2 separate regions of the Homo sapiens genome follow, and region 2 is linked to region 1. Evidence: fine-mapped expression QTL. A gene starts in region 1. The other region holds a variant in brackets. All regions are shown on one strand. Distances are from middle to middle. Region 1 holds the start of PPFIBP2 (PPFIB scaffold protein 2). Region 2 overlaps PPFIBP2 (PPFIB scaffold protein 2).

What was found. PIP is the estimated chance that this variant, and not a neighbour inherited with it, causes the effect.
Region 2: its variant is fine-mapped to the expression of PPFIBP2 in ovary (GTEx, PIP 0.93).

The regions. Positions count from the first base shown.
Region 1 is chr11:7,511,226-7,516,601 of GRCh38, reverse strand. It overlaps PPFIBP2 (PPFIB scaffold protein 2), which reads right to left and starts at 2,603. Exons shown (of 24, transcript NM_003621.5): 1 at 2,481-2,603. LOC124902806 (leucine-rich repeat extensin-like protein 5) reads left to right here. Exons shown (of 4, transcript XM_047428005.1): 2 at 1,997-2,484; 3 at 2,562-4,479. The coding sequence ends at 3,392. OLFML1 (olfactomedin like 1) reads right to left here. Exons shown (of 3, transcript NM_198474.4): 3 at 5,225-5,376. RefSeq lists enhancers at 1-22, 3,708-3,827 and a silencer at 2,508-3,037.
Region 2 is chr11:7,579,829-7,585,204 of GRCh38, reverse strand. The region is part of intron 3 of PPFIBP2 (PPFIB scaffold protein 2); the gene reads right to left. It overlaps LOC105376535 (a long non-coding RNA gene), which reads left to right. Exons shown (of 4, transcript XR_007062579.1): 3 at 3,796-3,945. Among named protein-coding and RNA genes, the nearest start is that of PPFIBP2, 69 kb to the right of the region's middle. The variant T/C (reference allele first, on the strand shown) is at 2,413.

The sequences.
Region 1 (5,376 bases):
CCACCTGCACCCAGGCGCTCGTTAAAACAGCACGTTGCCCCACACCGCCTCATGTTGTCTGTTGGCAGGCTCTCGGGGTTCGAACCAATACAAGAACCTTTCATAAACTTTACCTTAAACATTACAGTCTAAAGGCCATACCATTCCTCAGGCCCAAAGCTGAATCTTCCCAGCATTGTTTCTCCCTCCTCACTTCTCATTGCATCTAATCAGTCTAGAGACTGTCCCATTCCCTAGTCCTCTGTCCTACAGATTCTATCTCTCCGAAGTCTCCCTACCTGTCCCCACCTCATCACTCTCTCAGGCCCAAAATAAGGCCTCATCCCTTTGACCCTGGATCAGCCTCCCGGTTTCCTATCCGGCCTCGCCGCCCCCACTGTCTTTTTCCCTTGGAGTTTGCTTCCCACCACACTCCCAGAACTTTGCCATTGCAGCAGTTGCCTTCGGGTTTGTCAACAGAATCACCTGGGGGAACTTGGTAAAAACATCCCAGACTACTTAATCTGAACGTTTTACAAAACTCCCCAGGCGATTATGAGGCATAGCCAGGTTTGCAAACTGCTACTCTAAATCCTTGCTACACATAGGGAAATGATCAGCAAGCTCCTGGGAATCTGTTAGAAACACAGAATGTCAAGTCCCACCCCTGACCTATGGAATCATAATTTGCATTTGAACAAGATCCCCACAGGATTCTCAACTTTGAGAAGCTCTGCTCTACAGTGTTGTCAGACCATGCACTCCACAAATATTTACTGGATTTTCTCTGTATCAGGCTAGGAATTGGGAGGGTCAAGGACCAAGGTCTTTGACTTTGAGAAGTTCACAGAACCATCAGTCAGTCCCCTGCTGTGCCTTCAGACCAAGTCCAGACTTCTGTACTGGACAGCTGGGACTATTTTCCAGCCTTGTCACCAGCTTTCCTGACTAGCACTTGACATAAGAGCCAAGCTGGACCACTGGCCACTTCTCATGGTGAGTCCATGCCTGCCTGCCCACACAGTTGTCACAGCCCAGGCCACACTCTACCCTTCTCTGCCTCAAAAACCCCAGGAGGGATCCTTTGAGGTCCATCACATCACCCTTTCTTAAAATTATCCCAGATTTCCCTGCTCAGATGAAAGACAGGAATTCCCATAACTTTGTTCCTACCGCCTTCATGTCATTGATCTCATTCCACTTACTCTTTTAAAGTCAAAGCGCATCTCCCTTAGCTACCCAGTAAAGAAGGCATCATGGTAAGCAGCTTATCTCTCCAGTAGCAATAAGCTAACAACTGTCACATCACCAAATCTTAAAATAGTATTACTAATAATTGAAATATGTTAAATAAAACATGGATAAATGCAATCAGTGAAAACCTCATCAATCATCCCCATCTCCCACTTCAAATTTATTTAGCTATGAATTTAAGCAAAGTACAAATGGGTTGCCTCTCTTAAGCCAAAGAGAAATAATTTCTAAATTAGATAACACTTACAGCTTTCCATACACCTATAATAATGAAAGACTGAATATGCTGAAGATGAATTATGTCGAAAACCAACTACTTTTCTGTAGTTGACCATTTAACTTCACATAATACACTACAAATTTGAAAACACTTCAGATTTGTATTACAATCAATTAAGGAGGGGTTGAGAAAGGAGAGAGACGAAGAGAAAGACAGGAAGTAGACCAAAATATAGAAAAGGGACACGGATCTATACCAAATATCTGGCTGCTCTAAAAGTAAAAATATAATTAGATTCGTTTTTTAAGAAGATTAAACACTGGCAAGAATGCCTGTCTTAATCCTATCCAAACGCTGGAAGTTCTGTTCTCTTGTTACATAATCTTATTTTCATCCGAGGAAAAACTGCGGGTCTGGAATCTGATGTGATGAGGTGAGGAGGGAGCCCACTTTTAAATAGGACCGTCCCCATCCTGCAGTCTACTGGGACGCGGCGGCTTTAGATTTTAAAAAGTGTGCTGTATTTTTGCACTTACACTACAGAACTGGCTTTAGCCGAGGCCCTGCATCTAGACACACGCTGTGTCCACCAGAGAATTGCCTGGGCTGACAGACCTAAAGCTTCCGCAACCTCCTTAGGCTCCCTAGTCCACGCCGCTGCTCCCCGGGCTGAGCAGGGCTGGGACGCGCCGCACAGAACTCAGGGACCCCACCTCCCTGCGCATCTCCAGGGCCACGCTGGCACCTGCAGGAGTGCGGACTGTCCGCGGATCCCAGGCAGGGTTGGGTGGAGATTCGCAGCCAACCCACAGGAGTTCTGCCCTCCTCCCAGGCTTCTGGCCAGTGGAGTTGGAGAAGGGTCCCCGTCCTCGAGCCTGGGACACGCTCCGGGGCTCACAGAGACACTGACCCACACGTCCCCGTGGTTCGTAGCTCTGGGGGCGCTCCACTCCCTAGGTAATGCTCCCGACGGGGATCCCAACCCCGACCGCGCGGCAAGCCCGGGGTGTGGGGAGAGCCCACTGACCTGGGTACGGGGCCGAGGCTCCTCTCCGGGCGGCTCAGGTGTGCGGGCCGCTCCCGTGTCCCTCCCACCTTCAAACATGAGAGCCCAGAAGCGAGCGACGGGCCACTGGCCCACCGACCAACTGCCGGACCAAGCGCCCGACCAACCAGCGGACCGACCGCAGCGGCCGGGGCCGGCGCCCACGTGACGGGGCGGGGACCTGCGGAAGGCTCTTCCCGGAGCGCCGCGCCCCCACCCCGGGACCTGCCACAGGGACCACCCCCTTGGGCACCCGCTCCCTCTCGGGCACCGAAGAAGCCTGCTGGGACCCGTCCACCAGGGTTCCTGTTCCCGGGGGACCGGCCTGGTCAGCCCCGCCCCTTCGAACCTGCCTCGTCCCCACCCCCTGGGCCGCGCGTCCGGGCCCCAGCCCCGCCTCTCTCGGCGGACCGCGCCCCCTTCCGGGAGCCCCGCCCCGTTCGCCGCGCCTCCTCCTCCGCACAGCTCCGGTTGCGGGGAGGCCCGGGTGGGTACCCGGCGCTCCGGCTCCCAGTCTCCTGGGCTTCTCCAGTCCTTCAGCGCCGTTCTCCGGTCACAGGGAATGAAAGCGAGGAAGAAGGAAACGGTGTCGAGAATTGCGAAGAGAGAAAGCATAGAAAACCCACATTAGAGGCACTCCCAGAGCAGAAACCCTTCGGAGCATCCCGACTTCCTCGGCCCGCGTGCAATCCAGGCAAAATTGAGGTTGTCTCTGAGCCGCCCTCCCTAAGCAGGTCGGAAAGCCCCCGAATCATCCCAGGTCCCGCCGCGCTGCACTCGCAACCTGGGGTGGAGGTCCCTCTAGTGGTTGGCACCAAACAAAAGTTCTGTCTTATGAAGAGCCGAGGTCAGGAAGCATTTCCCTGTGCCCAGCGCCAAGGTCTGGGACCTTAGGTCCAAGAAAAGCGTTGGCAATGTCTGACCACAGGAATGGGTTCTCGAACTGGGGAGGACTGAAGCTGGAGATCTGGTCCAGCCCCTACCTCCAGCGTGTGGCCTGAACCCGTTTTGGTTGTACTGCTATGTTGTGGCCCTGCCCAGGCCTCCAAGGACTGGCTGCTGTTAAGCTGTTTAAAATCCCTGTAGGCCTCAGATGGCAGCGACACCAGGGACTCGGCATAGTCCCCAGCTCTGGCAGGAGTCACCACAGCCCTAGCCTTTAGTTCTCTACAGGCTGGAGTGTCGACAAACTCCACAGGACACAACTTTTTCAAACCAAATTTACCCTCGCGGTCTGAAATGACCAGTAGGCCCAGGAGAATTTTACATGTGAACAGAACCTAACCCACCCTGGCAAATATGAGACGTGTGGTCACTGCGGGAACCTGGCCAGCAGCAGACCAAAGCACAGCCAGCAGGGGAAGGCTGGGGCCCGCAAGAGTTGTGTTACAACAGGACACCCTTCAGTTCTCTTTCACTTCCTTAAAATAGCAGCAGAGCGACTTTTGTAGACGCAGGCTGCCACAGTTCACACAAGGTCATGGCTGTTTCCGAATCCCACCCTTTATTGCCCTAGCGGAGCCACTCCCCTTACCTCCGCCCCCAGAAACTGCTAGCCTGTTCTTAAATTGATACAGTTACCTTTTTAAATGTTCTAAGTCACCGGCTCTGGAGCTTCTTTGCACTTTGGAACCAACTTGCGGGAAGGAACTTTAAAAATACTGATATCTCGATCCATCCCCAGAGGTTCTGATTTAATGGTCTTGGGGATATGGCCACGGCATGAGGACTGTTAAAACTCCGCAGGTGATTCTTATGTGCAACAAAGTTTAAGAACCACTGATGTAGGCCATGTCGATGTCAGTCTTCACTTAAATCCAACAAGACCCCAGAGCTAAAACGTTCACCTGAAAGAAACCCCATTCCCAGGCCTGCATACTGACCTGCGCTGGCTCACAAGAAGCAAAGTGGTCCCTTAACAGGGGCTTCCTGGAGAAAATGTCTTGACCTAAAAGAGTGATTCGAGCTGCAGGGATTTAAGGTAGGTACCAAGGTGAGTTGTTTGGGGCAGATGTGCCCTGCAGAGCTGTCAATCAAATCATATCCCAGGTGGAATCTAGACAGCACATTTCAGGCAACCTCCCCTCTGTGCCTCCAAAGGAACTATGGTTGCAGGACTCACTCCTATTGATAAATCTACCCCACTATCCTCTGTGAGGCAGCCCACATTCCTTCTATCTGTGAAATAGGTAGGTAATAGGGCAGGTAATATCACATTTATTTATTCATACCTGTCTCATTCCACAAAGGATTTGGCCTCTCTGTACCATTCTGTTAGAACTGTGGGTAATTACACTGTATCCATGGGTTGAGTAATTCCCTTCTGCCAAATATCTACTCAAATGCTATGGAAAAAAACATTTTCTCTTCACTGCCTATGGTCCCAGCCTGGGCTTGGCAAAGACAGGAAAACAGCTGCAAGCACACAAAGCAAACCTTCTCATGTGACCAACCTGGAAAGACAGAGGCTTCAGCACGTGACACAGACTGGCACCACAGCCTGCACTTGTGACTCGAACTTAGCTGAATTGGACAAACACGTGGGAAACACTGAGGAAGCCCCTGTCAAGAGGCATGCTGCCCTCGGTGCCACAGGGCATGCCTGCTGTGGCAGAGTCGCTTGCCTGCTGTATGGCTTCTGTCCAGATTCCAGAATATTTACCAGGGCCTCAGTGTGTTGGGAATCATTCACAGTAAACCTAACACAAGCAGCACTCCCAGAAAGCTTTTGTGCTTAGGGTATGTGGGCAAATATAACCTGATGAGGTTATTTGCTCAGTGTCACTTTTATTGAATTTAAAGCAGAAAGAGAGAAACAGAGGACAGCAAGACAAGAGGAGGCTAGAGTTGGGGTCCTCACCCTTAGACTGGTTTTCTG
Region 2 (5,376 bases), 69 kb before region 1:
ACATTTCCTTCAGTGCTTCTAATAAGCTATAAATTCCAGTGCCTTCAGGATCTTGGCCACAGTACATACACTGTCCCAACTGGTCAGAGCATGTTAAATTATATGATGGCTCTTTGCCTGTAAATACGCTGAGATTTTGAACACAGCACGTTGGGTAAGCCTTGTCCTGGATAAGCCTTAAAATGGTTCTTCCTTATTTAGCCATTTAGATGACATGTATTTTTAGCTGAATAAGAAAACAAAAGAAAATGTGTAGTGTTTCCAGGCTGCCTAGTCAAGAGGATCTTATCAAAATCCAGAAAACTAGTTACAAGTGAACCATAGCTGCCAGGCACAGGGCATCAGGGGAGATATCAAAGTTACTAAGGCTATATCTTAAGCTCAGAAGCACCACTCACATGCAACCCCTTTTAGAAACTTAGAAGACATAAACCTTAAAAGTAAGGGGACCAAAATAAATAAATAAACAAAAATGATTGGATCACAAAAGCTACAGTCAATTCCTGTTACAGGACTCTGGTTACCCAACACCAAGGGAACCCAGTAGTATGAGTGTAGGCAGGTTCTTATAAAAAAGAAAACTTCCCCTAGATTTTTTTATTAAGGAGTTTTAGGGCTTTCTGGCATTTATTATAAACCTGAGTATTCCCAGGACCAGTTCTGCTTTTTCTAGGTGAAGAACGGTCAAGCCAATCTACCATCTTTGTCACAGTGTTAAAGAAATTTCTTCCAAATGCAATGTGAATAGAGTGCAGTCAGATCCTCGGCTACCAGGAGTCCAACAAGAGAAAGCCTATCCTGACCTTGACCCTTATTCCCTCCTCCCCTCAATTATATATAAGGGGAGGTTAAGTATTGCTGATGAGGCTATCATCCAATGATCTAAATGTCCTCTTTTAAGGAAGAACAAAGCAGAGTTCATAAACAGCAAATAAATAGCTTCTTGGTTGACCAATGTTCACATCATCACACGTCATGAATGTATTTATGAAATGACTTGAATAATCCTGAGCACCCACTAGGTGCCACTTTCTGTGCTAAACAATGATTTAGTCCCTGCCCTTAAAAAGCTCTGTAGTATTACAGGGAATAAGGACAGAAGGAAAAAAGAAATCAACCTTTGCAGCAGGATGTAATAAGTACTATCATAAAGAGTTGTATGCACATGAATGGCAGGGGCATAGAGGAGAGACAAAAACATTTCACCTTCAAAAGAGAGAAGAGGCTTTACAGTGGAGGCACCATTTGAATGATTGAGTCTGAAGGCTTTAAAGGAATACCCCTAGGAGAATGTGAGAACAGCAGCTTTGGAAATAGCCTTCCCAATACAGACATGCTACCCATGAAGCTATGACAATCACTACCCTTCAGATATTCTGGTCTTCCAGAACTAACATAGCAAACACAGGACACCCTGAAGATAAACTGGCCATCAGCTCTCCAACCAAGGGGCTGGGATGAAGCTCCTAACTGATCTTCCTGGGGAGCTAGATTTGTAGAGAAACACATTTACCAAGATTTTTTTTTTCCCCAAAATTATAACCTTGGCTGAGCTTGGTCACTGCTAAATTCTCTTTATCTGGTAGCTGGACACATAAAAAGCTTACAGCACTGGGCTGCAGAAATAGCATTTGTATGTGTGCTGGTATCCTGTAATGAGAGGATGTGAAAGCCAGGAGGAGAGTAAAAAGAGAAGACTCTTTGAAGACTGTCCTCACCTTGCCAACTCCAATAGATGCACTGAGTCATTATTACTGAAAACACCTTCAGAGACAGTGCAGCAGGACTGGGTGCTACAGTTAGGGTGGAGTGGGCGCTGTGACTGTCTTAGCTCCCCTGGAGGCTTTAGAGCCTGGTGTCTCTTCGGCATGAAAGATCCAAAGTTTGAGAACACAGAATTAGGCAAGAGCCAAAGTAAGGAGCTGCTCCTCGGGTCACAAGAATGCCATTAATCCTACAAGATTTCCAAATGGAAATGAATACAAAGGAAAATGTATGGGGAAGATTGCCTGGGAACTAGAGGCAGCAAAAATAACATTACAGAAGGAATTTAAAAGATGACTATAGGAACAAAGTTAGTGCTCACTGGCTTCAGGAGTGACCAGGAGGGAGTAGAGATGAACGAGCAGGCTAACAACTCACCAAGAATCTTAACAGTGAAAGGAAGGTAAGTTATAAGGCAGCATGAAGAGACAAGCACAGGGTCAAAGATAGTTTTGATTTGTTTTTTCCCTGAGAATTGAGGAGAAGCATTTTCCACCAAGGGCAAGGGACAGATAGGCAGGGAGGAGCTGAGAGAAGAAACAATCAGAGCAACAAGAGGAGCTGGAACAGGATTGGGTCAAGGACAGGATACTGGGATAGCCTTGGCTGAGAGAAGGGACTCCTGGCCCATGAAACAGGATGCTGAAA[T/C]ACAGTTACATTTTGCGGTGAAAGGGAGGGAGGGTGAAGAGACTCATCTCAGTTTGGCTGGTTTTTTTTTTTTTTTCCTATGACATTGGTAGTGACATCAGTTGAAAGGGGAGTATAAGGTTGAAGACTAATGGAAAAGTGTGAAAGAGCTGCTATGGAGGAAGGGACAGAGAAAAGCAGGGATGAGTCAAAGGATCCCTAAGTGCTGCTGCCAGTCCACAAAACCAACAATGGCTGTGCTGCTCTGTAGTGCCCACAAGTTGTTCAGCAAATGACCCTGGTGTGATGCCAGTTTGTTAAATCCCACTGGGTAAAAGAGGCCTCTCTTCAAGGAGCTGGCAGGAGTTACAGGTGCTGGATGTCAGAGATGGCAGAATTCTAGCTTCTAAATTATACCAGGAAACATAATGTACAGGCATCTCGGGTGTGTTGGCCAGAAATAGGAGGTATCATAGGAAATTGAGGAAGCTAGTGCCCTTGGGTGACCATATCCACTGTTGCCTTTCCCATAGGATTGAAAAACCTCTCTTTTCAGAATCAAGGTTGGGTACCTGGCTCCCGAGTAACCAGAGGTTGTCAGTTCTGATCGATGTCATCCTCCCCATAACTCTAACACTTATAAAGTGCTTCCTAAGCACTTAACATACATTGAATTGGCTGGGCACGGTGGCTCACGCCTGTAATCCCAGCACTTTGGGAGGCTGAGGCGGGCGCATCATCTGAGATCAGGAGTTCGAGACCAGACTGGCTAACATGGCAAAACCCCATCTCTACTAAAAATACAAAAAATTAGCTGGGCATGGCGGTGTATGCCTGTAATCCCAGCTACTCGGGAGGCTGAGGCAGGAGAATCGCTTGAAGCTAGGAGAAGGAGGTTGAAGTGAGCCAAGATTGTGCCACTGCACTCCAGCCTGGGTGACAGACCTAGACTCTGTCTCAAAAAAAAAAAAATCTATCTATCTATCTATCTATAGAATTGTTTATCCATATATATAATCAAGGAAATTGAATTCTAGGAAGGTTAAATAAATTGCCCAAGTCTACACAGAGGTGAGATATGAGCCCAAGGAATCTAGATCCAGGATCCATGCTCTTAACTAGTAGGAACAGCCTTCACAGAAGCTGCTGCCTATTTCTGTAACTTTCACTGCAGTCCAACATGAATGCAAGGCAAGTCAGTGTCTGGAGTGAGGAGACCTCCGTGTCTGCCTTTGCAGCTCTTCTGGCCCAAGTGGCCAGGCTACTAGATCAACCATTTGAGCACCAGATGACACAGAATAAAGTCTCACATTAGCAGCTTGAGTTAATTCCACTTTTTACTGCAGAACCTGAGCCAACTGCATGGGGGACCTGTAGTGATTCCATTTTCTTTGTGACCTACAGTTGGAATTTGCTTAAGCACTGAGAGTGCTGGAAGCCAGGAAGCAGTGTGAAGATGCTGACAGTCTGGGATTTCTGTTCCTGGGAAAATGAACTCTTGCCGAAAGAGCAGTGGGTGGGTCCCACAGACCCTGCTCGGAGCTATTTTTAGAGGTGTGTTCATGGTTGTGTGGGTTGGATCCACTGGACTCAATGTAGAACAGGTGTGAGCTGTTTGTGACTGAGTCCCTCTGGATACTTGTGGCAAGAGACTACCTTATCCCTAGGCTTTGTCTGTTAGGAGAATGAACTAGAGCATCAGCCCTGATCAGCCTTCACTCAGCAACCACAGCCAAGCTGGCCAGATCCAGCAGCCAATGAGGCCTCTGGTCACCTATGGTGGCCCAGGTTGCAGCTGCCTTTTCTAGGTCTTCAATATGCTTGGTTTGAGACCTTGATCTGGAGTATGGGAAGGGTCATAAAGCTGAAGCACTGAATGGCCTGAGAGGCAATTCTAGGAGAGAACCTGGTTCCATCTGTTCCTCTTTCAACTTCTCCCTTCCTGATAATCACCAATAGCAGTTAATAGCAAGCATGTTATTGAGTATTTCCTACATGCATGATACTGCACTAATCGTACTATCTTACTGAGTCCTCATAAAGCCTGTATGTGGTAGGTACTATTATCTCCCTTATTTTATAGTTAAAGAAATCCAGACTTTTGAGATAATTTACCTTGGATCACACAGCTGGTAAACGTGGCAATGCCAGGATTCTAATTCAGGCCTCACTCCAGACTCCATGTTCTTAACTGTAATATTAATAGTATATACTATCCCATCCCACACAGGCCCTGGAGCAAGATTTCTTTTCTGAGCAAATATTTCCCCTCCAGCTCCATGCCTCTCTGAACATAAGTATCTCCCCTTTGCCCTGAGACACCACCACCTTGGACTGCTCAAAGGGCAAGGGCTCCTGCTCTGGCACCAGGAACCTCTTCTTCCAGAATCTATGCCCTCTGTAAAGGAGAATGAAGACGATAGTGTTTCTACCTTCAAAAGCATGAGTTCAGAGAAACCAGCTCTCCACACCACCTCAGCTGAAGCACAGGAGAAAGGGTGGGTGAGCCATGCAGATGGGAAGTGCTGCAGACCTGGGCTACAGGAGGTGGGGAGGGAGGGCCAGCAGAGGTTTCCTGGGAAAAGACAGCCTGGATGGAGTCAGTTGAAGTGGATGAGAGTTAGAGAGGAGGTGGTCATCTGTGGTAAAAGCTCAGAAAAGGGAAGAAATACACTTGGGAGCTCATCAGGGTAGATATAAAAGATAAAACTAAAAAGGTAAGTTGAGGTTGGGCTGCTAATGGTCTCAAAGGCCAAGCAAGCCGAAGGGCCTGATTTTTCTTCCAGATTAAGGGTGAGTCCAGGGGGGCTCATCACTGGGGTCACAGGACGAAAGGGAATTTGTTTTTTTTGTTTTTTTTTTTAAGAAGATTTTAAAAATCTGGCAGTAGTGTTTAGGGTAGAGAATAGTGAAAATACTCTTATCACACTGCCAATGACATGTCTACACTTTGAGTTTTGCTTTTGTAAAATGCTCTTTAAAATT